Homo sapiens: one gene and its partners. The protein of the gene in region 2 interacts with the protein of the main gene of each other region in a biochemical or structural test. Each region holds a gene or a part of one and is shown on either strand. Other genes may lie near its edges.

Region 1 (7,383 bases), on a different chromosome or scaffold from region 2:
TTGTGAATGCAGAGGAAAAGTTCCTGAAAGAAACTAAAAGTGGGTCGGGCGCAGTGGCTCACACCTGTATTCCCAGCACTTTGGGAGGCCAAAGCAGGTGGATCACTTGAGGTCAGGAGTTTGAGACCAGCCTGGCCAACATGGTGAAACCCCATCTCTACTAAAAATAAAAAAATTAGCCAGGCATGGTGGTGTGTGCCTGTAATCCCAGCTACTCGGGAGGCTGAGGTGGGAGAATCACTTGAACCCGAGAGCTGGAGGTGGCAGTGAGCCAAGATCGCACCACTGCACTCCAGCCTGAATGACAGAGCGAGACTTGGTCACCAAAAAAAAAAAAAAAAAAAAAGGCCGGGCGCAGTGGCTCACGTCTGTAATCCCAGCACTTCGGGAGGCTGAGGCAGGTGGATCACAAGGTCAGGAGATTGAGGCCATCCTGGCTAACATGGTGAAACCCCGTCTCTACTAAAAAAATACAAAAAATTAGCCGGGCATAGTGGCGGGCACCTGTAGTCCCAGCTACTCGGGAGGCTGAGGCAAGAGAATGGCGTGAACCTGGGAGGCGGAGCTTGCAGTGAGCCGAGATCGTGCCACTGCACTCCAGCCTGGGTGACAGAGGGAGACTCTGTCTCAAAAAAAAAAAAAAAAATTAGCCGGGTGTGGTGGTGGGTGCCTGTAGTCCCAGCCACTTGGGAGGCTGAGGCAGGAGAATCGCTTGAACCCGGGAGGCGGAGGTTGCAGCGAGCCGAGATCGTGCCACCGCACTCCAGCCTGGGCGACAGAGCAAGACTTCATCTCCAAAAAACAAAAAGTGCTGCTCCAGTGAACACAAGCCTGATAAGACAGCTGAACGGCCTTAGTACTGATAGAGAGAAAGCTGAAGTGCCGGGATGGGAAATCAAAGCGGACACATTCCCCGAAGCCAGAGCCCCAGCCTGAGCGAGGCCCTAACTCCCTTCAGTTCTACGAAGGCTGAGGGAGGTGAGGAGGCTGCAGAAGAAAAATCTGAAGCTAGCAGAAGTTGGCCCATGAAGTTCAAGGAAAGAAGCCATTTCTACCACATAAAAGTGCAAGGTGAGGCTGGGCACAATGGCTCATGCCTGTAATCCCAGCATTTTGGGAGTCAAGGCAGGAGGATCACTTGAGGCCAGGGGTTTGAGACTAGTGTGGGCAACATAGTGAGACCCCATCTCTACAAAAATAAATAAAACTAGCCAGGCATGGTGGCGTATGCCTGTAGTCCTAGCTACTCGGGAGGCTGAAGTGGGGAGGATCACTTGAGCCCAAGAGACTGAGGCTACATACAGTGAGCCAAGATCATACCACTGCACTCCAGCCTGGGCAACAGAGCAAGATGTTGTCTCAAAAAAAGAAAAAAAAAAAAGAAACACTTCTTTTTGGTTTCTGTAGAAATTAACAAGCCAATTCTAAACTCTGTAAGGGAAAGCCAAGTAACCAGAACAGGCTAAACAATTTTGAAAATGAGGAACAAAGTTCAAGGATTCCTACTACTTGATTTCAAGAATTACTATAAGGCTGGGCATGGTGGCTCACTCCTGTTACCTCAGCACTATGGGAGTCCGAAGTGGGAGGATCGCTTGAGCCCAGGAGTTCGAGACCAGCCTAGACAACATAACGAAAAACTTAGCTGGGTGTGGTGGTGCACACCTGTGGTCCCGGCTGTTCAGGAGGCTGAGGTGGAAGGATCACTTGAGCCTGGGAGGTGGAGGCTGCAGTGAGTCATGGCTGTACCACTGCACTCCAACCTGGGTGACAGACTGAGACCTTATCTCAAAAAAAAAGAAAGACGCCAGACTCAAAAGCCCACATGCTGTGCAATTCCACTTCTACCACATTCTGGACAAGGCAAAACGGCAGGAACAGAAAATAGGTCAGTGTTGCTGGGAGCTGGGGGAGAAGAGGGGGCTGACTACAGAAGGTCACAAGAGAAGCATGTCAGGTGTGGAAGAGCTGCAGCGACCACACAGCTGTGCATGAGTGGAAAACCACAGGCCCCTACACATAAGTGGGTTTGCCATGTGAAACGTGTATCTCAATAAACCTAACTTTTTTTTTTTTTTTTTTTGAGAGAGTCTCACTCTGTTGCCCAGGCTGGGGTACAGTGGTGCGATCTCCACTCACTGCAACCTCTGCGTCCTGCACGCAAGTGATTCTCATGCCTCGGCCTCCCAAGTAGCTAGGATTACAGGCACGCACCACCACGCCTGGCTTTTTTTGTATTTTTAGTAGAGATGGGGTTTTGCTGTGTGGTCAGGTTGGTCTCAAACTCCTGAGCTCAAGTGATCTGCCCACCTCAGCCTCCCAAAGTGTTGGGATTACAGGTGTGAGCCACCATGCCCGGCCTAAACCTTACTTTAAGTTAAAAAAATATACACGCACCCAGAGTCAATTCTCATTGTTTGCAGTAATTACGTTCCATAAAGTCACCACTAATACTGAACACCGTACCTCTGTTCCTACAGGAAATACAGGGTCAGGTTCCTACGAGCCTCTGGTCACAACATTTTCAGCAACCAATCAATACGCAACAGCCTTATTTTACGTTTCTGTCAAAGAACTTTATAATTATTATTGTTCTCCGACACTGAACTCACGTGGGGCAGAGCCTGTCCAACACACGTTCTCTCCATGGGACCCATCCCAGCCTGCCTGTGTCCAGGGACACTCAACAGCACTGCGGCACCTCCCCCAGGGGCATCTAAAAAGCAAAATCACCAAGAGCCCCCAAATGCAAGAAGCATGGCCCTCAGTAGATGGAGAAAGGACAATTTGCTTCCAACATGGGAGCAGTGGCAGAGGGCAGGGTGCCTCGCTCACCCCAGCAGGCACCCAAGCACCACGCAACTTGGGCTTTTAGCAGCCTGTGCGTGCCCGCAAATGACTGGGAAAGTGACATAAGTGTGAATTTTGGGGTTACACGTAAGTTTTAACAAATAGGGGATGGGGCCACAGAAGAATTGGGGGAGAACAGACACAACCCCCAAGATCATTGAGCAACAAGAGCTGTGCGGCAGGGCGGTGCCCGTGGTCCCTGCCTGTCCGGGACCCTCCAGGGCACAGCCCACTCTCCTGAGCTCACCCACAGCCAGGTCTGCCATGGTCAGAGACAGGAGACCAGGGAGCACAGAGAGGAACTTTGTCTTTTCCCTTTTGGGAACAGAGTCAAGAGAAACAGCAACAGTGGTCAGGAAAGCCCCCAGCACCCCTGCTCCAGGAGCCGGGTCTCCATGTGACAACGTCCCAAATGCTGCAGGGGTGTCCTGTATTTTTATCTGCAAAACCTGGGCACTGCTGCAAGCCTCGCGCCCGGCCCATCCTTGGGGTCATCCTCCTCCGTTGCTGTCCCCACAAAGTCCAAGAAGGATCGGAGACCAGAGCCCCAGCATCCGAGGTGCATCCGGCAGTCAAGGGATGGGGACAGCGGCCCCCAGGGGATGCAGACAGACGTTCCCTCATGCAAGTGGCCAGATGGCCCAGGCACTGTGTCTCCTGGAGGAATGGGACAGAACACGCCCCTCCCTCAGAACTGCCCTAGCCCAGCCCAGAGAACGCCACACCTCAGGGCCAGCCCCCACGTGCGCTGCGCCCTTGCTGTCCTCTGAAGGCAGGGGATGAGCCAGGGCAGAATCAGGTGTGCCCCATACCTGACTCCACCGCTGACCAACTGCACAGGCCTTGAGGCTCTTTTTTTTTTTTTTTTTTTTTGTGAGACGAAGTCTCGCTCTGTCACCCAGGCTGGAGTGCAGTGGCGTGATCTCGGCTCACTGCAACATCCATGGGCTCATTTTTAAGGTATGCTTGGTACCAGGAGCCGCTGCCGCTGCCCTGGTTTCCTCCCCTGTGACGACGCTGCTGTGAGGACAGCCTGGCAGGGCACGGACGGGAAGGGACGCGTGGTCCCCTCCATGCCCCAGGGGTCCCCCAACCGCACAGATCTGCAGACCCTCCTCCTAATGGCACCCACAGAGCTCAGGCCCTGACCGTGAAAGGGCTCTGGGGGCAGGCGGGCACTCGAGCTCCTCAGGCCACCGGGCAGAGAAAGCAGCAAAGCCCACGCCAGGCCGGATCACGGGGCTGCAGTGCTGAGGCCCGCCCCAGGGAGGCTGCCGGGCGGCTCTGAGGAGCGGTCACCTCAGACCCCTCAGGTGCGCTGCATGGCCCAGGCGGGAGCAGCCTAGAGGGTGGTGCAAAGCCCATAGAAGCAAGCCTTGGGGCCTGGGCTCGGGGGTGCCGGGGGCACATTGGTGGGGCGGGTGGGGTATAGGGGCGAGGTGCTGGGTGGCCTTGCACTATGAGGGTGGCCCCAGCCTCCCTGGGCTTGGCTCCATCGCCACCAAGATCCCCCAGTCCGCACACTCAGACATGAGCCCACCGGGACAGGAATGGAGCAGGCCAGCTGGGGTGGGGGTGGGGGTGGAGACACCAGCAACACGAGAGCCCCAGAAAGCAGTGAGCCCAGGTAGCACACGAGGAAAGACATTTGGAGAATATTAAATGCTCTGCCGGGCATGGTAGTTCACAGCCTTGCAAACCCAGCGGCACTTTGGGAGCCCAAGGCAAGAGGATCGCTTGAGGACGGGAGTTCGAGACCAGCCTGGGCAACATAGTGAGACTCCGCCTCTATAAAAAATCTTAAAATTAGCTGGGTATGGTGGTGTGCACCTGTGGTCTCAGCTACTCAGGAAGCTGAGATGGGAGGATCGCCTGAGCCTGTGGGGTGGAGGCTGCAGTAGCTGTGATGGTGCCACTGCACTCCAGCCTGGGCAACAGGAGACCCTGTCTCAAAAAAAACATAATTACATGCTCCCAAGACAGCCTGCTGGAGTCTAAGGTAGGGTCTAAGCTGCCCCCCAACCAGGTCTCAGGGTGGGCTCCTCCTGGGGAAGGGGGGCCACCCTCCCTAGCAGGACTCAGCCCATAATCTGGCAAGAGCACTCCAAGTTCAGCAGGAGGAGGAAGGAGGCCCTGCAGCCAGTGCTCCCCCAAGCCGCCTCCCGGGTACCTGGCCAGGCACACGGCACCTCCTCTGGCATCCCAGCCTCACCTGCTGACCAGCGTCCAGATGCGCAGCTGGGGACCCACCTCTAGGTAGGATGCCTGCAGGGCCACTGCAGCAGTTTTGACACCCAGAACCCACACACACGGGCGGGAACGGCACTGCCAGGGCGGGTCGGGCGCGAGGGATGTGCTTCATTGGACCATATATTCCAACATCTCTCACTGACAGCTACTTTTTTATTATTCTGAGAGCTTAACGATCAAATTCTCCACTCAGAACAATATGGGGCCAGGCACCGTGGCTCACGCCTGTAATCCCAGCACTTTGGGAGGCCGAGGCGGGTGGATCACTTGAGGTCAGGAGTTCGAGACCAGCCTGGCCTAGATGGTGAAACCCTGTCTCTACTAAAAACACAAAAACTAGCCAGGTGTGGTGGTGCACACCTGTAATCCCAGCTACTCAGGGGGCTGAGGCAGGCAAATCACTAGAACCCAGGAGGCGGAGGTTGCAGTGAGCCGCGATTGTGCCACTGCACTCCAGCCTGGGTGACAGAGTGAGACTGTCTCAAAAACAAAAAAAAAAGCCAGACGCAGTGGCTCACGCCTGTAATCCCAATACTTTGAGAGGCTGAGGCGGGTGGGTCACAAGGTCAGGAGATCGAGACCATACTGGCTAACACAGTGAAACCCCGTCTCTACAAAAAAAAAAAAATTACAAAACATTAGCCAGGCATGGTGGCGGGCGCCTGTAGTCCCAGCTACTTGGGAGGCTGAGGCAGGAGAATGGTGTGAACCCGGGAGGCGGACTTGCAGTGAGCCCAGATTGCGCTACTGCACTCCAGCCTGGGGGACAGAGCGAGACTCCGTCTCAAAAAAACAAAGGTGGAGCAAGCCAGGAGTGCTCAGTGGCTGAGGCAGGAGAAGCTCAGTGGCCCATCCTGCCTGGAGAGTGAGCCAGGGCTGCCAATGGCGCAGTGCTGAGGCCGATCCTCACAGGCCAAGTGGGACAGCCCCATGCCATCCCCTCCAGGACATCACACCTGGGCCCCTGCCACTTCTACCACTCCCGCTCCTGGTGCTCACAGGACGGCCGTGTCTCCAGGGCTCTTCCCTGCCTTCTTGGAAAAGATGGGTGGGACCCCAAAAGTCGGCCCATGGAGCAGCAAGTGCCTAGGGACACGGTGCACTCAGCACTCCAGGGTAGGGCGGCGCTGGCTGCAGCCCTCTACAAATCTGACATTTTTTTTAAGTTTACTTTTTTCCCCACTGGCAAGTATATAGAGCAATAAAGTTTAAACTTCAAAAAAACACTAGAATAAAAATACAAAAGCAACATTTCTAACAGCGCGCCAGAGCGCAGATGATGGCACATGCCAAGCCCAGTGAAGACCAGCAGCACGGACAGGGTGCTTCCGCCCAGGCTGCGCCAGAGACCGGGGCAGAGCCCGCGGCCCTGCAGGGGCAGGGGCTTTCTGGCATCCTTTCAAACTACATTAAAATTTTTTTTTTTTGATACGGAGTCTCACTCTGTCACCCAGCCTCAACTTTTATTAAAATTAAAACAAAAAGGCCGGGCATGAGCTCACGCCTGTAATCCCAGCACTTTCGGAGGCCGAAGCGGGTGGATCACTTGAGGTCAGGAGTTCCAGACCAGCCTGACCAACATGGAGAAACGCCGTCTCTACTAAAAATGTAAAACTTAACCAGGCCTGGTGGCGCCTGGCTAGTCCCAGCTACTTGGGAGGCTGAGGCAGGAAATCGCTTGGGCCGGGGAGGCGGAGGTTGCAGTGAGCCGAAATCGCGCCTCTGCACTCCAGCTTGGGCCACAGAGCAAGACTCCATCTCAAAAAAAAAAAAAAAAAAAAAATTAAACAAAAAAAATCCAAAAGATGGGGTGTTAACCTCTTGCAATGAAAAACAGAAACACCCAAGGCAAAATGGTAATGGCCTGTCCACTGAAAAGCAGAAGCCCCACATGAGCAAGCTGCAGGCGGCTGGCAGGCACCGATTCCTGCTGTCCTGTTTTGGATGCTATCTAACATCTTCATGTTCAACCCAGAGAAGAAACATCCCGCCGTTGCCCTGGGGCCCTCTCATCCCACAGCAGGTTTCAAGCCTTCCCCAGCCCTCGGGATGGACAACCCTTGAGAAGCAGAGGTCAGGGAACCCTGACCCCGCCACCCTTGCCCAGGCCATCCGCTGCCCTCACAGGCACAGACAGAAGGCCTCTGTCCGTGGCCAGGGCACTCCATGGGGAAGAAACAGGCCCTGTTCCCTCCCTGCTCACCACTTCACCCAGCTCAGCTGGCACAAAAATACTGCCACCACACCTTCACCCTGCCTAGCCCAACCTGGCAGGGCCTCGGA
Region 2 (7,383 bases):
ACGCCGGCACCCCCAGGCGGGTCCTGCTGACCTCTTGCCCACAGCTTTGTCCACATTCAGGGGCAAAGTACAACAACCAAATCCAATGCAAAGTTAAGTGACGACAGAGAACTCGGGTGGACAGACACAATGCGGAAAACAAGACAGAATTCAAGTACCGAGGCACCCAGCCAGGCGCGGCCCGCCGGGCTCACAGTATCTGTCACACCTCCGGTCCCTCCTGGACCTCTCCATGCAACCCAGCTGCCTCCTGGGCCCATCCCCTTGGGGAAGAGGAAGGCAGGGCAGGAGAGGCGGCTAGATCCCAGGCCCACCACCTGCCAGGCGGCAGCTCCAACACGGTCCAGTCCCTTCTGTCCTCCTCAAAAGGTGTGGAGATAACGTAGCTCTGTAATAGATTCTATATAGGATATGCGTATTGCTAATAGTCAGGCTTAGGGATAAAGGTGCAGACATCTCATAAATACTGAGTGGCTCGTCTCTCTCTACAGGGTCTGGATGAGTCAGGGTCACACTCACAGGACAGGACAACCCCGGATTCTAGAATTAGTCATCTTGTAAACAAAGGAGGGAAGGGTCCGGCTTTCTTAATTGGTTTCCTTGGGAAAAATGATCAAAGGATGCTAAGGCACTCTGGAAGGCCCCTCTGAGCCCGGGCCGCCGCCCCCGCCCCACGGTACATTCAGGACGTGGAGGGAGCACACAGCAGGTCCGCTCAGCAGCCACGCACGTCCACAGACACTCCCGACTCACGCCCACCGTGGGACACATTAGTGCAAAATGCTCGGCCTGGCCCGCCCGGGGCGCAGGGAGAGCTCAGAACCCATTCACATTAAATTATTATTATTTAAGTTTTATCTATAGCTCTTGCCTTCCTTACCCAGAACAAAACAGACGGCGATTACAAACGAGTGAGGAAGGGGCACGGGACATTGTGCGGGCCTGAACAGCAGTCAGGCGTCCTCTGTGCAGCCACCACCTCCGGCAGCAGCCAGCGGCTCCCTCCCTGTCCTGGCCAAGGGTGGGGGGGCACCCACTTTGGAGTGGAGGGCAGAGAGAGCCCTTCTGTCAGCAGCCAGGCCCCCAGGGATGGTCAAATTAAAGTGCAAATTTGGGTGTGGGGCAGATGAAGGAAACTCCAGAGGGAACTCAAGTGCAGCTCAACCTCACCTACCTGCCCCTGCTCCACCCCGCGGCTTCCTCCCATCTCCGAGGAAGGCTTGGTCCAGGTTCCCAGCGGGCCCCATGGGGGCTCCAACCCCACCTGTGCCCAAGACAGGGGAGGAAGAGGCAGAGAAAGGCTCCCTCTAGGCTGGGTGGTTCTTAGTTCAGCAGAAGGTCTGGATGCCTCTGCACCACTGAGCCACCTGCAGCCCTAGGAATGCAGGTCTTGGTCCCCCTGGACGTGGGCCCTGAGGAATGGGTGGAGGGGCCGAGGTTAGCGTCCACAGTGCCTGCCCATGGTCCCCCACCTCCTTCTGGAAAGCAACGTATTTTTCTGGAGGGCAGGCATGTGCTGGGCCTGGCTGGAGGCAGCCCAGGAGGCTGAGTGCTGTCTGTAGAGGCGGCCCCACGGGAGGTCTCCTAGGGCCTCGCCACAGGGGTGGGCTTCGGGGCAGAAAGGAGCCGCCCAGTGGGAATGCGTCTAACCCACACCCTGTAGGTCCCCAGGCCAGGGTGCAGCACATGGTCCTCCCCTAGCGGAGGCGGCCTCCGCTTGATGGGTTGTGGAGGTTGGGGGAGTGGGGTGCGCTGGTCGGCCACCGCTCACTGGCCTGTGTGCACACCGGAGGGGGTGCTGATGGGCGCAGGGCTGCACTTGTTTTGCAAGTGAAGATGGGGAAGCCGAGTTCTGGAGGGACAGAGGTGAGCAACAGACATTTCAAGTCTTGGGATGGGGGGTTCTTCTGGCCACACCTGGGAAGGAGGGCTGCCCCTGGACAAGGACACAGGCCTCCAAAACAAAAGGGAGGGACACCTGGGTAGGTGGCCACACCAGCACTTCACACAGGACTTCACACAGTCTGTGAGCCCTACCACTTAAAAAACAGTAATTAAATTTCAAAGGAAGCACTCCAGCCTCAAACCAAACAGCCCCATCTTCCATGGGCCCTTCCTCCACTGTCCCTGGCCCCCCAACATGATCCCTAACCCTCTGTCCCCTACCAGTGCCCATACCTCCAACTGCCCCAGCCCAGGCCTGTCCCGGTCATCCCCTGCCTGCAGCCTCAGGCACCCTCCATCCATGCACACCCCTCAAGGCAGACGGGGAGCCCAGCACCGGGAGGACCGACTCTCGCCCTGGCCCAGCCCTGGCCGCTGCCTCCTGCCCGAGCGGAGTCCCCCGCTCCCCAGGTCCGGCCCTGAGCTCAGCTTCACACGTACTAGTCGCCCACCCGGGACCCCCTTTTTCCCCCAGTGGGAGACGAGTGGTCCCTGGCCCTGGGCGGGGGAGCAGGGGGACGCACCCTAACGGCCACAGATGACCCACCCCAAGCCATGGTGGGCTGGGGACAGGGACACCCATCCCACCCAAAGTTTTTGTTCTATTGAGTCTGAAAGTTTCCAAACCATATATGAAATAGATCTAAATTACAACAAAACCTAAAAAAAACAAGACAAGCATAATCCCAAAGTGGCTGAGGCGGCAGAGGGCAGCGTGTGCTACATCAGCTGTGCACGTCCCACAGTGGGCCCGGGCGGGACAGTGGGAGGCCAGGCGGGGTCAGCGGTGCCCTGGGGGTCAGGGGACCGAGGGGCTGCAGAGCCGAGACGGATCGGGCAGAACAAGGACAGGGTGTGGGGGCAGAGTAAAGTACCCTTTTCTCCACCCCGAGGGGTGGGCCACAGCCATCACTGCCCCCTCACCACACCCCTGCACACACACGCACACACACACACTCGTGCACACACCCCACACAGGTGGAAGGCCCGGTGGGCCTGGCCCCGAGTCTCCGAAAGAAGGAAAAACGAGGAGTTAGGCCCTGGAGCCTGAGCCCTGCCCCGTCGCCCCAGAGAGGTTCCATGGGGAAGGAAGGAAGGGTCAGTGACGCACAGCCCAGCCCCCTCGCCACAGACCACCGCCGGCCCCTGCTTCGTCTTCCGGGCAGGAGGAGCAGGAAGGGCAGGGAGGAAGGGGCAGGGCTGGGCACCAGGGGCCTGGCGGCCTCCCACCCTCCCCAAGAAGGGGGAGGGAAGCTACACTTGGAGGCTGACCTTGTGAATATCAAAAGGGAGCCCTGGGAACTTCCTCGCAGGAGGCTGCCAGTGGCCTAATTGTTTACAGTATAATGAATGCATTTGTTTCCTTCATCAATTTTAAATACAAGCAGAATAAAAATCACATTTTTCTCAGGCAACAGTAGCAGTTCAGTAGGTAAGTGGCTTGATCACATTTGTTTGTATTAGTAACGCATGCAAGCAGCTCTAGTACTCGGTCCCTCGCGCAGCCACCCAGCTCCGCTTACAAGGTCCCTGCATAGGTGCCCTCCGGCCTCCGGGCCGCGGCCGCCGGCGTCTGGGGCCTGCTGGGGCCGCCCCCGCCCTGCTCAAAGGGCTGTGGGGGGCTCTGGCCATCGGCGGGCAGCGGCTCGGGGGCGGCCACCTCCTGGATGACCGAGCCAGCCCCGTCCACCTCCTCGCCGGCGTCGAAGGCGGGGTTGGCGGCGGCACTCAGGTCAACATTCACGGCGTCAGTTCTCAGAGCCACGATGGTGGCGGCGTCGCCCCGCCGCTCGGCGTAGATGCGTTGCTCGAACACCTGTGCCGCGGCAGGCGGGAACTCGGGGTCGAGGGGCACGCTGGCGGCGGCGGAGCCCATGACCGTGCGGTACATCTCCACGCCCTCCGGCAGCATGGACTTGATCTTGGGCAGCCAGCGCTTGCGAACGCGGCGGGCGTTGGTGCACATGTCCGCGGCGATCACGTTCATCTCGCTCTCCTTGAAGCTGGGGGCGAAGTTCTGACAGTACACTGTGAGGACGGGGCGGCGTGAGCTCAGCCACCTGCCTGCCGGGAGGCCCGCCCCTCCCCAAGGCCACAGAACCATGATGCCCTGGATGAGCCTCCCCGGCCGCTCCTGGGGCCCATGTGACCACCTGGGGCTCTCCTGGCCTCAGCCAGAAGACCAGAGGTCACGTTTCTCACTGCTCGGCCTGGGAGGCCTCCCCACCCCATTCCTCTGGAACAGTCTCTGGCCTGGTCAGGCCCAGCAGCCTTGGCCGTCCGCCAGCTGTGAGGCTCAGGCCTGTTTTTAATCTCTCCGGGCTTCCGTAGCCCCAACGGCTAACGGGAACTGGTCAGAGGGTCCCCCTTTCGGGAATAACACACCCCTCCCCGTCCCAGTCCCAGCCTGGAGGAGGGGAGTGACAGAAGCCATCACTTCAGCAACACTCGCCTCCTTTCTCTGGCAGGAGCCCAGGCCAAGGCCGGGTCATTCCTCCCAACGGCATCAAACCCAGAGGCAGGTCCCAGGGGCCACGTCCACCTCGGTCCCTCCCAGAATCTTCCCAGAGCCTCGGCTGCCACCCCACACTTGGGGACTGTAATTCCTGGCTGCAAAGGCCCCTTTTTGCTCTAAAACAGAATTTGCCTCACAAGGTTTTTTTTTTTTTTTTTTTTTCTTTTTTTTAGGAAGAAAACAAGATAGTGCTTCTTGGGCCGAGGGCCACAGGAGGCTGTGCTCTTGGCCACCTGGTGCGAGCCGGCAGCAGTCAGCATCTTCCACATCTGGGGCGCGGGCCGGGGGCGGCGGTCTGCCCTGGAGATGGACCGGGCTCCGCCCCCACACGCCCAAGAGCGGGAGGCAGAAGCCGGCCGAACAGATGGCAAAGGCTCAAAATAACCGCAAAATGTAAATAAGGGGTTTTGTTCAAAAAGGAAAATTAGATCTATTTCACATATTAAAATAGTTTCGCAGCTGAATTCATCACACTTGGAAACCTACCAAGAACGTTAACACCTCGAGACCTGGCTTCTGAGAGCTGCTCTTTTCTCCTCATCTTCCCCTCAATCAGACCATGCTCGGCCCCCAGGGACGGAAGCTGCAGGTGGCCGGGAGCACCCCCGCGGCCCACCCAGTCCTCCTCAGGCTGGGATCTGAACCCAGCCCCGGCCCCACCCACCCGAGAGACCCCCAGGCTCTTACATTTCACAGCGTTCAGGACCCGGCTGTCCAGCGGCTTCCGGCTGGGGTCGCTGGTGGACGAGCGGATGCCAGTCCCGCAGCTGTTGGCCAGCGTGTTCCTGGTGGAGGGACCGGAAAGGCAGGCAGGGTGAGGATGATGGGGAGGGTACCTGGAGGCGACCCGCCCGCACGAATGCCCTGCTGGGAGGCCACTTGGCCTCACCCTTGGCTGGTCTGCGTGTGTCCCAGTGGCAGGAGCCGGCCCAGCCACCCTCTAAGGGACAGGACAAAGGAAAAGCGTCTGGGCTGAGAAGATGACCGGGTGATGGGGCTGCAAGGTGACCTGAGCCTTGTCCTCAGGGACTCCGGGGACGTCTGAGGAAGCCGCTGTGTCCTCGGGAAGGGTTCTGTTGGCCCATCAGCACAACAGAATAAGTGTGGCTCTTCATTTTTCTGTTGTGGGGGTTGCATCCACAAGCCCGTTTGAGAAAGGCCACGAAAGACAGCCCCTCCCTCCCTCCCTGGGAGCCTCTCCACCGTCCTGGGGCCGACCGGCCACGGCTGAAGTCAGGAATGCGAGAGGGCTTTCAATGCCACAACCCTGGACGATCAGACAGCTCATAGCTAAAGGAGCCAGAACCCTCCGCAGCTCCATTGTGCCCTCCAGCACTCCTGCCCCGACCTACCTGTCAAAGAAGGTGGCCAGGAGCCTCCGCAGCAAGACCTTATGCTTCACCCCTGCACACAGGTGGCAGTTCATCAGCTGGCCGCGTGTGATGTAGACCCCAGAGCCTGCAGCCACCAAACAGAAAAAGGGCTCGTGGCCTTCCCGGGCCATAGGGTCCGAAGAGGCGCACAGATGGGTGAGGGGGAGGGGGGGAGGTGGAGGGGGAGGAGGAGCTGGAAGCTTCTAGGACTTTTTTTGGGGAGGAGCAATTTGAGGTCCCACCTGCTGGTCACCAGGAGAGGCCATGGCCAAGGCCAGCCCCAGCAGGTCCCAAATCACACATGGAACTAAGCAGGGGGTGGGGAAAGCCACAGCGCCCCCCACCCTCCCCAACGAGCCCCAAACTCCAAGCTCTCCCGGCCATGCTGCGGTCCCCGGCCTCAGCTCCCTCCCCAAGAACACACTTTGTTGTTGTTTAGAGACGGGGTCTTGCTCTGTTGCCCAGGCTGGAGAGCAGTGGTGCCATCATGGCTCACTGTAGCCTCGACCTCCCGGGCTCCAGTGATCCTCCCACCTCAGCCCCCTGAGTAGCCGGGACCACAGGCGCCACCACCATGCCCAGTTAATTTTGATGAAGTCTCCCTATGTTGCCCAGACTGGTCTTGAACACCTGGCCTCAAGCAATCTTCCCACTTCGGCCTCCCAAAGTGCTGGGATTACAGGAGGAGGGGCACTGCACCTGGCCTAGGGAACACACTCTGAAGGGCTGGCTGTGGCCCTGGGTTTGGGAAACACTCATGTCTTTGCCTTTCTGCTCCGTCCCAGATACCAGAGAGCCCTCAGGCAACGATGAGGGAGACGGAATCCCCTGGCTGGAGGGTATGGCTGGAGCTTTGCAGGGCCCAGTGCTGACCTCCTCTGGGTATGTGTGAAGAGGAAAACCAGCTAGGGCAGAGGCGTGGCCAGAGAGGTCCACGCTGTGCTGTTTACCCTCGGAAACTTGACCACACCCCAGGTGTCCCACCAGGGTCTGGGTGAGCGAGGGCATGGACAAGCAGCAGGACTGAACCCTCTGGGAACAATGGGGAGGGAATGCTTTCTGGGGGCAGCCAGTCTCAATGACCATGAGATGTCATGTCCTGAAGGACACGATGTCCAGGTGCGCCTGCTTCCAGGAGCCTGTGAGTGCCCATGACCTCTTCCTGCCATGGCCCGTCTCCTGCCCCACCACTCCCACAGGCCCTTCCTGCCAGGGTCTGGGCTGGAGGAACTCTCCTGAGGAGCTCATAAACTGAAGCACGTCTCCAATCCCATCAGCCCCACACCCCAAACAGAGGCCACAGCTGCTGGAGGCTGGGATGACCGAGAGCATCTTCCTGGGACCACACCTATGTGAAGCACCAGGGCCCGCGTGGGCACCTGCGCCCCAGAGCCCAACCCCAGGGGCCCACCCAGCCGCCCCGGCAGCCCAGCACTGCGCTCGCCATCCAGAAGCAGTGCCGGGGCAGGGTGGGAGCTCAGGCCACAGCAAGGTGGGCCCCTACCCCTCCTGGCCAGGGCAGCCCAACACTGCCAGGTGCAGCCCAGGAGG
Region 3 (7,283 bases), on a different chromosome or scaffold from region 2:
ATGAGACAGACTGGCCTTTTCTGAAAGAATTTTACTAAATAAGAGAAGAAGTTAATGAAAGGAAAAAGAAGAGAGAAATAAATCATGGAAAACACGAACCAACAAGATAAAGTCCCTTTTCCAAAGCCTGGCCTCTGGTTTCAGATTAATTACATTTTAGACCTCCAGGCTCCTGTCCTGGGTTCAGTATGACAGAACTCCCAGACTGTGGCCAGCACCAATCTCTTTTAATTTATTTTTTTTGAGATGAAGTCTCGTTCTGTTGCCCAGACTGGAACACAGTGGTGTGATCTTGGCTCACTGCAATCTCTGCCTCCTGGGTTCAAGCGATTCTTCTGCCTCAGCCTCCTGAGTAGCTGGGACTACAGGCGCTTGCCACCATGCCCGGCTAATTTTTTGTATTTTTAGTAGAGATGGGTTTTCACCATATTGACCAGGCTGGTCTCGAACTCCTGACCTCATGATCCGCCGGCCTCGGCCTCCCAAAGTGCTGGGATTACAGGTGTGAGCCACCGCGCTCAGCCAACCGGCACCAATCTCTTTTTATTTTTTCGCACATATAAAAACTCCATCCCTACGTTGAGACAAAAACCAACTCTCCATTTTACCTATTCACCTAAAGCTTTCTTTTTTTTCTTTTGTTTATTTATTTTGAGACAGAGTCTTGCTCTATTACCCAGGCTAGAGTGCAGGGGCATAAACATGGCTCACAGCCTCTACCTCCTGGGCTCAAGCGATTTGCCTGCCTCAGTCTCTTCCAGAGTAGCCAGGACCATAGGTGCGCACCAACTGGCTAACTTTTTTTTTTTTTTTTTGGTAGAGGTGGGGTCTTGCCATGTTGCCTAGGCTCAAATGATCCTCCTGCCTTGGCCTCCCAAAATGCTGGGATTACAGGCGTGAGCCACCATGCCTAGCCACCTATAGCTTTCTTGCTGCATCCACTTCTCTTCAACTAAATGGTAAAGAACTACCTTGTATGTGGTTCTTTAATTGCAACAACTGTGCAAGGAAATTTCATCCATGGAAGGGCTGGATTTGCCCTGGGATTTCTGGCATGGCCTGAGAGACACTTCTTCCTTAGTGATGAGAATAACTGGAATAGAGAGAAGGGACCTAACGCATATGAAGCGCCCAACAAGTGCCAAACACCTTCTATATTTAAATTTTACCAGGCTGGGCATGGTGGCTCATGCCTGTAATCCCAGCATTTTGGGAGGCTGGGCAGGCAGATCACTTGAGGTCAGGAGTTCCAGACCAGTGTGGCCAACATGGTGAAACCCTGTCTCTACTAAAAATACAAAAATTAGCCAGACGTGGTGATGGGCACCTGTAGTCCCAGCTGCTTGGGAGGCTGAGGCAGGAGAATTGCTTGAGCCTCGGAGGTGGAGCTTGCAGTGAGCCGAATCCGAATCGTGCCATTGCACTCCAGCCTGGGCAGCGAGAGCGAAACTCCGTCTCAAAAAAAATTTTTTTTTCTACCATAAGCCTTTGAGGTAGGTATCAACCAGTAGTCATATTTTGTAACCCCTCTTGAGGCTCAGAGGGGTTAAGTAACTTGCTCAAGGTCTTTATAGTTAAACTGCCAAACTAGGAGTGAAGTTAGGGCTGGTTGATGACAAGTTTGTGGTCTAAACCATGTAGCTAAGAAGGGAGAGGCGCCTTTGCTTTTTTAAAGGTGCAGGCTTTCCACCCGTCTTTGGTTGAAAGGTTTCTTTCAATCTACAAACATTTGCTGAACTCCTTTATGTGTGAACCTCTCTGGAATTAGGACATATAAAAGTTTCACAAAGTCCTTGTATTCAGCTCTTCTGATTCTTTGAGTCCACGATTTGTTGGTATTTATTCTTCAGATACTGAGCATCTACTGTGTCAGCTCAGAAATGTAGAGGACATTGGCCTAGGAGCTGGACATGGAAGAGACTAATATATAGAATCTAGAGCAAAAAACGGTTCTAAGGCCTGCCACCATCATTACCTCCTGCTAGTCCCCTTCAAGTCTTTGAGGCCTTTCATGGGGGGCTTCTGGATGAGGCTGTTCCTAAGGGGACATAGGGAGGAGTTTTCTCGGCATCTTTCACCATTTATTGTGGTTAGCACAGTCATCATAAACACCTGGCAAGAGCACTAAGCTTGGGAAATGAGACAGGCACACAATGAATTAACAAAAACAGGGAAAGATTTCGAAGGAGGAGAAATTGCTTATGAAAAATTAATGGGAAAACATCCTAAAGCTTGTGATCCACTTCTTTGCACTTTATGGTTTCTAGGTGGCTTTTGTACTTGGAGAAACACTGTGGTTCAGAACATTCTAGGCCAGAGGAAAGGGCTGATTCATAATCCCAAAATTGCTGCCAGTTTACTGTGTGATTCCAGGTGAATTATTCAACCCTATTTATGTGTCAGCTCAGAAATGGAGTGATGTCAGTTTTGTCAGAATGTTTTTGGTGGGATCTCTGGTAAATGTTGAATGACAGCTATGCAATGTGTGGAACAGAACACTTTTGCTTTCTTCTTTGGGTCAGAATTTGACACATGGCTCAGAATTTGACACACAGCAGAGAACCCTTGGGAATCTGTGGTTTTCTGGGGTTAAAAAGAAAGCAAGAGACACCTGTTATTTGCATGGTGCTCTGTGTTCCCTGGTTTACAAAGCATTTTCAGATATCATCGCAACTGATCCTTACCACACCTGTGAAGGGGGAACTCACGTCCCCATTTTATAGACGAGGAAACAGGTCATAGAGTCAATGTAATTCAATAGTGCTTTATTTTTTATTTTTATATTTTGCCTCAGCTATGCACAGTTTTTTCATCTCAATACTTTGTGATAAGTGACCATCACAAATGTCATCACCAAACCACCAAAACACAACCTTCTTTTCTGGGGGCACCTCTTAGCCCCGCACAGACCTTAAACCCAGAGTCGACAGCACACAGCTGTGTATCACCACACATTCCAAACAAGCCACCACACCAAGAAATCTTCTTCGTGTTTATTATGCAGCAATGTCTGGGAGTACTTTGGAATGGACTGGCTTCTCTAAAGAAAGTTATTTGTGTTCATTTGGGGGATCGCCAGCTAAGATTCAACGTTGTTTTTTTTTTTTTGTATCTGTGAGAGTAGGAAGGCCGTGAAAACAGAGGTTGTTTAGAGAATTGGCCTGGGACAATAACCATTTAGAAGCTTTAGGCACGTAACCAGTTAAGTGTCCATCGACATGAAACTGATTGAATACAATCTCCTCTGTTTGGGGGTGGTGGTGATTGTGAACTGTAGGGCCCTGTTCCCCCATGGACAAAGGAAGCCCCTCACTCCTAAAGGTCCCTTTTCCCAGCAGAACAGGCCCTGCATATACAGTGCCCGTCTAGAGCCAGGGCCTCCATCTGGGTGTTGGACAGTTGGTTCTGCTCAGCCCAGTTTTGGGGTAAACGATGACGCAGTTAGGGTGGCCTAGGAAGGGAGTTTTTCTACCTCTGTCCCCAGCTGGGTCTCTGGCGAGGCGGGAAGCACCCGGAATCTTCCTGGCCCTAGAGCCTGCAGGCTCCAGGCCGGCCCCTTGAATCTCACCGCGAGGAAGGCACCCTGCTGCCTGCACTTATTTGCATCCAAGAGTTTGCATTGAGACTGGCGCTTGCCTACTAGGGCAGCCACAGGGGGGTTCCCCAGGGACAGAGGTAGGGAAGGAGGACCTGTCTTGGGGTGGACAGGTGACGGGGTACCCTGGGTGGGGGAAGAGGTGCTGGGGAGAGGCTAAGCCCCAGCCCCCACTCTAATTCTCTAACAGCCCCTGGTCCGCATTTGAGTGCAGGCCTCTGCCTCAGCCAGGACCCTGACCCCAGGGCCCTCCACTTCCAGCAAGGCCCCCCACCCTCCCTCCCACTCCCACTCCCTTTCCCCTCCCCCTCCCCCCCAATTCCCGCTGGCCCCGCAGCGCTCCAGCCTCCCCGGGCCTCCCCCGGCCCGGCCCACTCGGCCTTGCTAGCCTGGCGCTGGGGGCGGGCACCAGCCCCCACCCCTCGGCGTACCATCCCCTTTACTTCCCCCACCCCCTGTCCCCTCCCTTCCCTCCCTTCCCCCCCGTGGCGAGGCAGCAGCGACGGCGGCGGCGGCAGCGGCGGTCGCGGCTGAGGCTGAGGAGGAGGCGGCGGCGGCGGGCGGGGCTCGGCTCGGGCTCCGCGGGCGGGCGGGCGGACATGGCGGCCAACATGTACCGGGTCGGAGGTAGGCAGGCTCGGCCCGACCCGGCCCGTGTGGGAGCGGGTTCCGGGAGCGGGGGGCCGGGGCGAGTGCACGCCAACTGCCGGGAGCCAAGGGCGCCGGGGCTGAGGTCGCAGTGGGCTGGGGCGCCGGGGCCCGCAGAGGGGCCGGGACTCCCCACCCCCACCCATCCCTTCCCCTCCCCCCACGCGGGCTCGCGAGGGCCCGGGGCCACCTTCACCCTCGCACCCCGCCCAGTGTTTAGGGCCAGGCCTCTACTTGGGGGTACGAATTACCAGACACCCCCCTCCACGAAACCCTCATCGGGGTAGGGCCCGTCGAGCCCCCTGAGAAGGTGGCCTTCTTGCGTGGCTTCTAGGCGCTGGAGAGGATGAGGGGACATCCCCTCTCCTGCTTCTTCCCCACTCAGTGGGAGCCTGGGGTGGGGGTGGGGGTGGGGGCGGTGGGGGCCCAGCCAGGGGCCCAGCTGGACGGGCCTGTTTGCGTGCCGGGGCCCTGCACCTCCCCTTCCTCGGCCCCCCTCCTTTTCGTTTCTGGTCCAGTCCCCCACGAATGGGGCTTCGTGGGAGCTGGGAACCTCAGCCGGAGGTGGGGAGTTGAGCTCTGCCTGGACGTTTGCTCTGCTGCCTGCCTCCTTCCCAGTCTTCTGCGGAAGAGAGAAATAAGGTCAAACAAACTTTCTCCCTACTCACGACGCCCTCCTCCCTCTTTCCTGGTAAAATAATAATTCAGATAAGTGGCGTGTTTGTATGAGAGACTGGCTCTTCCTTCTCTGCTCATTAGCCGAGCTTCTGATGGATGGTGGTGGGAATGGCCTGGCTAAATGAGGCCACTTTGCAGAAGAGAGCGGCGAAAGAGCCACTAAGATAGACAATAACAATGCAGCTGCCTTTCGGATAAACACACAGTGGGAAGTTTCCAGCAAGCCTATTAGATGAGAGGAAAAGCCACACTTGAAAAATTTTATCCTTTTAGTTGAAAGCCTGCAGCAATTTCTTAATCACAAGACATTAAATGGATCTGGATTAAATATGGTAAAAGGGTAAAAAAGATGCTGATATCACCCCCAGAACACTTTGCCTCTTAGAAGTGATCCCCCGGCCCCCTTTTTTCCTCATCTTCCCAGGTAAAACTGTGGAAAAGTTTGTCAGCGTTCTTCCTCTTAACCTGTTCTGCTCATCTGATTTTTTTTTTTTTTTTTAAGTAGTGATTGAAATGTAGGTTGGACTGTGAAGCCTTTCTCCCTGCTCTGAATGTGTCTTAGGTCAATAGTTTTATGTGAGAAGCAGCCTGCAGGGCAAATTGTATTGGAGGAAAAAGATGTGGAAGTAGTTATAGTACAGAGGACACATGTTTAGCGTGCCCTGACTACACAGTGATAAGAGGTGTCTTTTTTGTTTATTATTAAAGAAATGACGTATTGGGACAGAAGTCTAGGAGAAACTGATAAAACATTAATTGAAATGAAAATGCCAAGAAAATAAAGGTCTGTGAATAGTAGGCACGTGAGAGGATATATTAAGGCTGCATTATTATGTTTGCTTTTACCAGTGAATGAATTATGAGCTTAATTTCAAACGTGAAATGCCTAACATAAAAAGTCTTGGATTGACAAATCTGAACTTTCTGTTAAAAAGATTAAGTTCTGTACTTCCTTTAATTACAGATTATGTCTACTTTGAGAATTCCTCCAGCAACCCATACCTAATAAGAAGGATAGAAGAACTCAACAAGGTATACACTGAGTGTTCTTAATTTTAATATTAAAAATATTTATTTTCCCTTGATGGGTAATTGGGTAAAGGGTGGCCTGGTGTGGGGGCTCATGCCTGCAATCCCAGTAAATTGGGAGGCCTGGCGAGTGGATAGCTTGAGCCCAGGAGTTGGAGACCAGCCTGTGCAACATAGTGAGACCCTATCTCTTATTTTTTTTTAATTAATATAAAAAGTAAAAATATGGCTGGGTGCGGTGGCTCATGCCTGTAATCTCAGCACTCTGGGAGGCTGAGGCGGGCGGATCACCTGAGGTCGGGAGTTCGAGACCAGCCTGACCAACATGGAGAAACCCCGTCTGTACTAAAAATACAAAAAAAATAGTCGGGCATGGTGGCACATGCCTGTAATCCCAGCTACTCGAGAGGCTGAGGAAGGAGAATCGCTTGAACCCGGGAGGCGGAGGTTGCGGTGAGCCAAGATTGTGCAATTGCACCCTAGCCTGGGCAATGAGATAAACTCCGTCTCAAAAAAAAATAAAAATAAAAAAATAAAAATAAGCTGGGTAAAGGGGCATAAGAGATGATTTTACTTTCAGTCCCAGACTCTTTGAAAGATGAGATTTTAGGCTGGGCATGGCGGCTCACCCCTGTAATCCCAGCAATTTGGGAGGCCAAGGAGGGGGTGGATCACTTGAGGTCAGGAGTTCAAGACCAGCCTGGCCAACATGGTGAAACCCTGTTTCTACTAAAAAAGTACAAAAAAATTAGCTAGGCATGGTGGCATGCACCTGTAATCCCAGCTACTCAGGAGGCTGAGGCAGGAGAATCCAGGTGGAGGTTGCAGTGAGCTGAGATCACGCCATTGCACTCTAGCCTGGGTGACAGAGCAAAACACTGTCTCAAAAAAAAAAAAAAAAAAAAAAAAGTTGAGATTTTAGAGAGTTATGCACGATTCTGAATTCCGAATATTCTTTTGCTTTTTTGTTACTGAATATTTAAAAGTGTGCAGATATTTTCAAATTGCTTAGAGCCTCTGAAAGAGCAGTTCACTTATGTAACTCAGACCCTTTTTATGTTTAGAGTCATAATGTGTATTTTTCCCTTTTTAGTGAATTAATATTTTCCTCTTCCAGGTTTAGAAGGAGGAAGCTAGGGAACATAATATTGAAAGGAATTGGCTGGGCGGGTGCGGTGGCTCACGCCTGTAATCCCAGCACTTTGGGAGGTCGAGGCGGGCGGATCACCTGAGGTTGGGAGTTTGAGACCAGCCTGACCAACATGGAGAAACCCCATCTCTACTAAAAATACAAAATTAGCTGAGTGTGTTGGTGCATGCCTGTAATCCCAGC

What was found.
Region 1: the proteins of NACC2 (region 2) and MTA1 form a complex in vitro, tested with the Homo sapiens proteins (one study listed by BioGRID).
Region 3: the proteins of NACC2 (region 2) and MTA3 form a complex in vitro, tested with the Homo sapiens proteins (one study listed by BioGRID).

The regions. Positions count from the first base shown.
Region 1 is NC_000014.9:105,422,716-105,430,098, reverse strand, and holds part of MTA1 (metastasis-associated protein MTA1), read right to left. Parts: intron 1-7,383. UniProt on the Homo sapiens protein: Transcriptional coregulator which can act as both a transcriptional corepressor and coactivator. Acts as a component of the histone deacetylase NuRD complex which participates in the remodeling of chromatin.
Region 2 is NC_000009.12:136,008,053-136,015,435, forward strand, and holds part of NACC2 (nucleus accumbens-associated protein 2), read right to left. Parts: intron 6,715-7,383; exon of another isoform or gene 6,461-6,714; intron 5,918-6,460; coding exon 5,812-5,917; intron 5,245-5,811; coding exon 5,147-5,244; intron 3,973-5,146; coding exon 3,464-3,972; 3' UTR 1-3,463.
Region 3 is NC_000002.12:42,564,552-42,571,834, forward strand, and holds the start of MTA3 (metastasis-associated protein MTA3), read left to right. Parts: upstream 1-4,080; 5' UTR 4,081-4,194; coding exon 4,195-4,222; intron 4,223-5,885; coding exon 5,886-5,953; intron 5,954-7,283. UniProt on the Homo sapiens protein: Acts as a component of the histone deacetylase NuRD complex which participates in the remodeling of chromatin.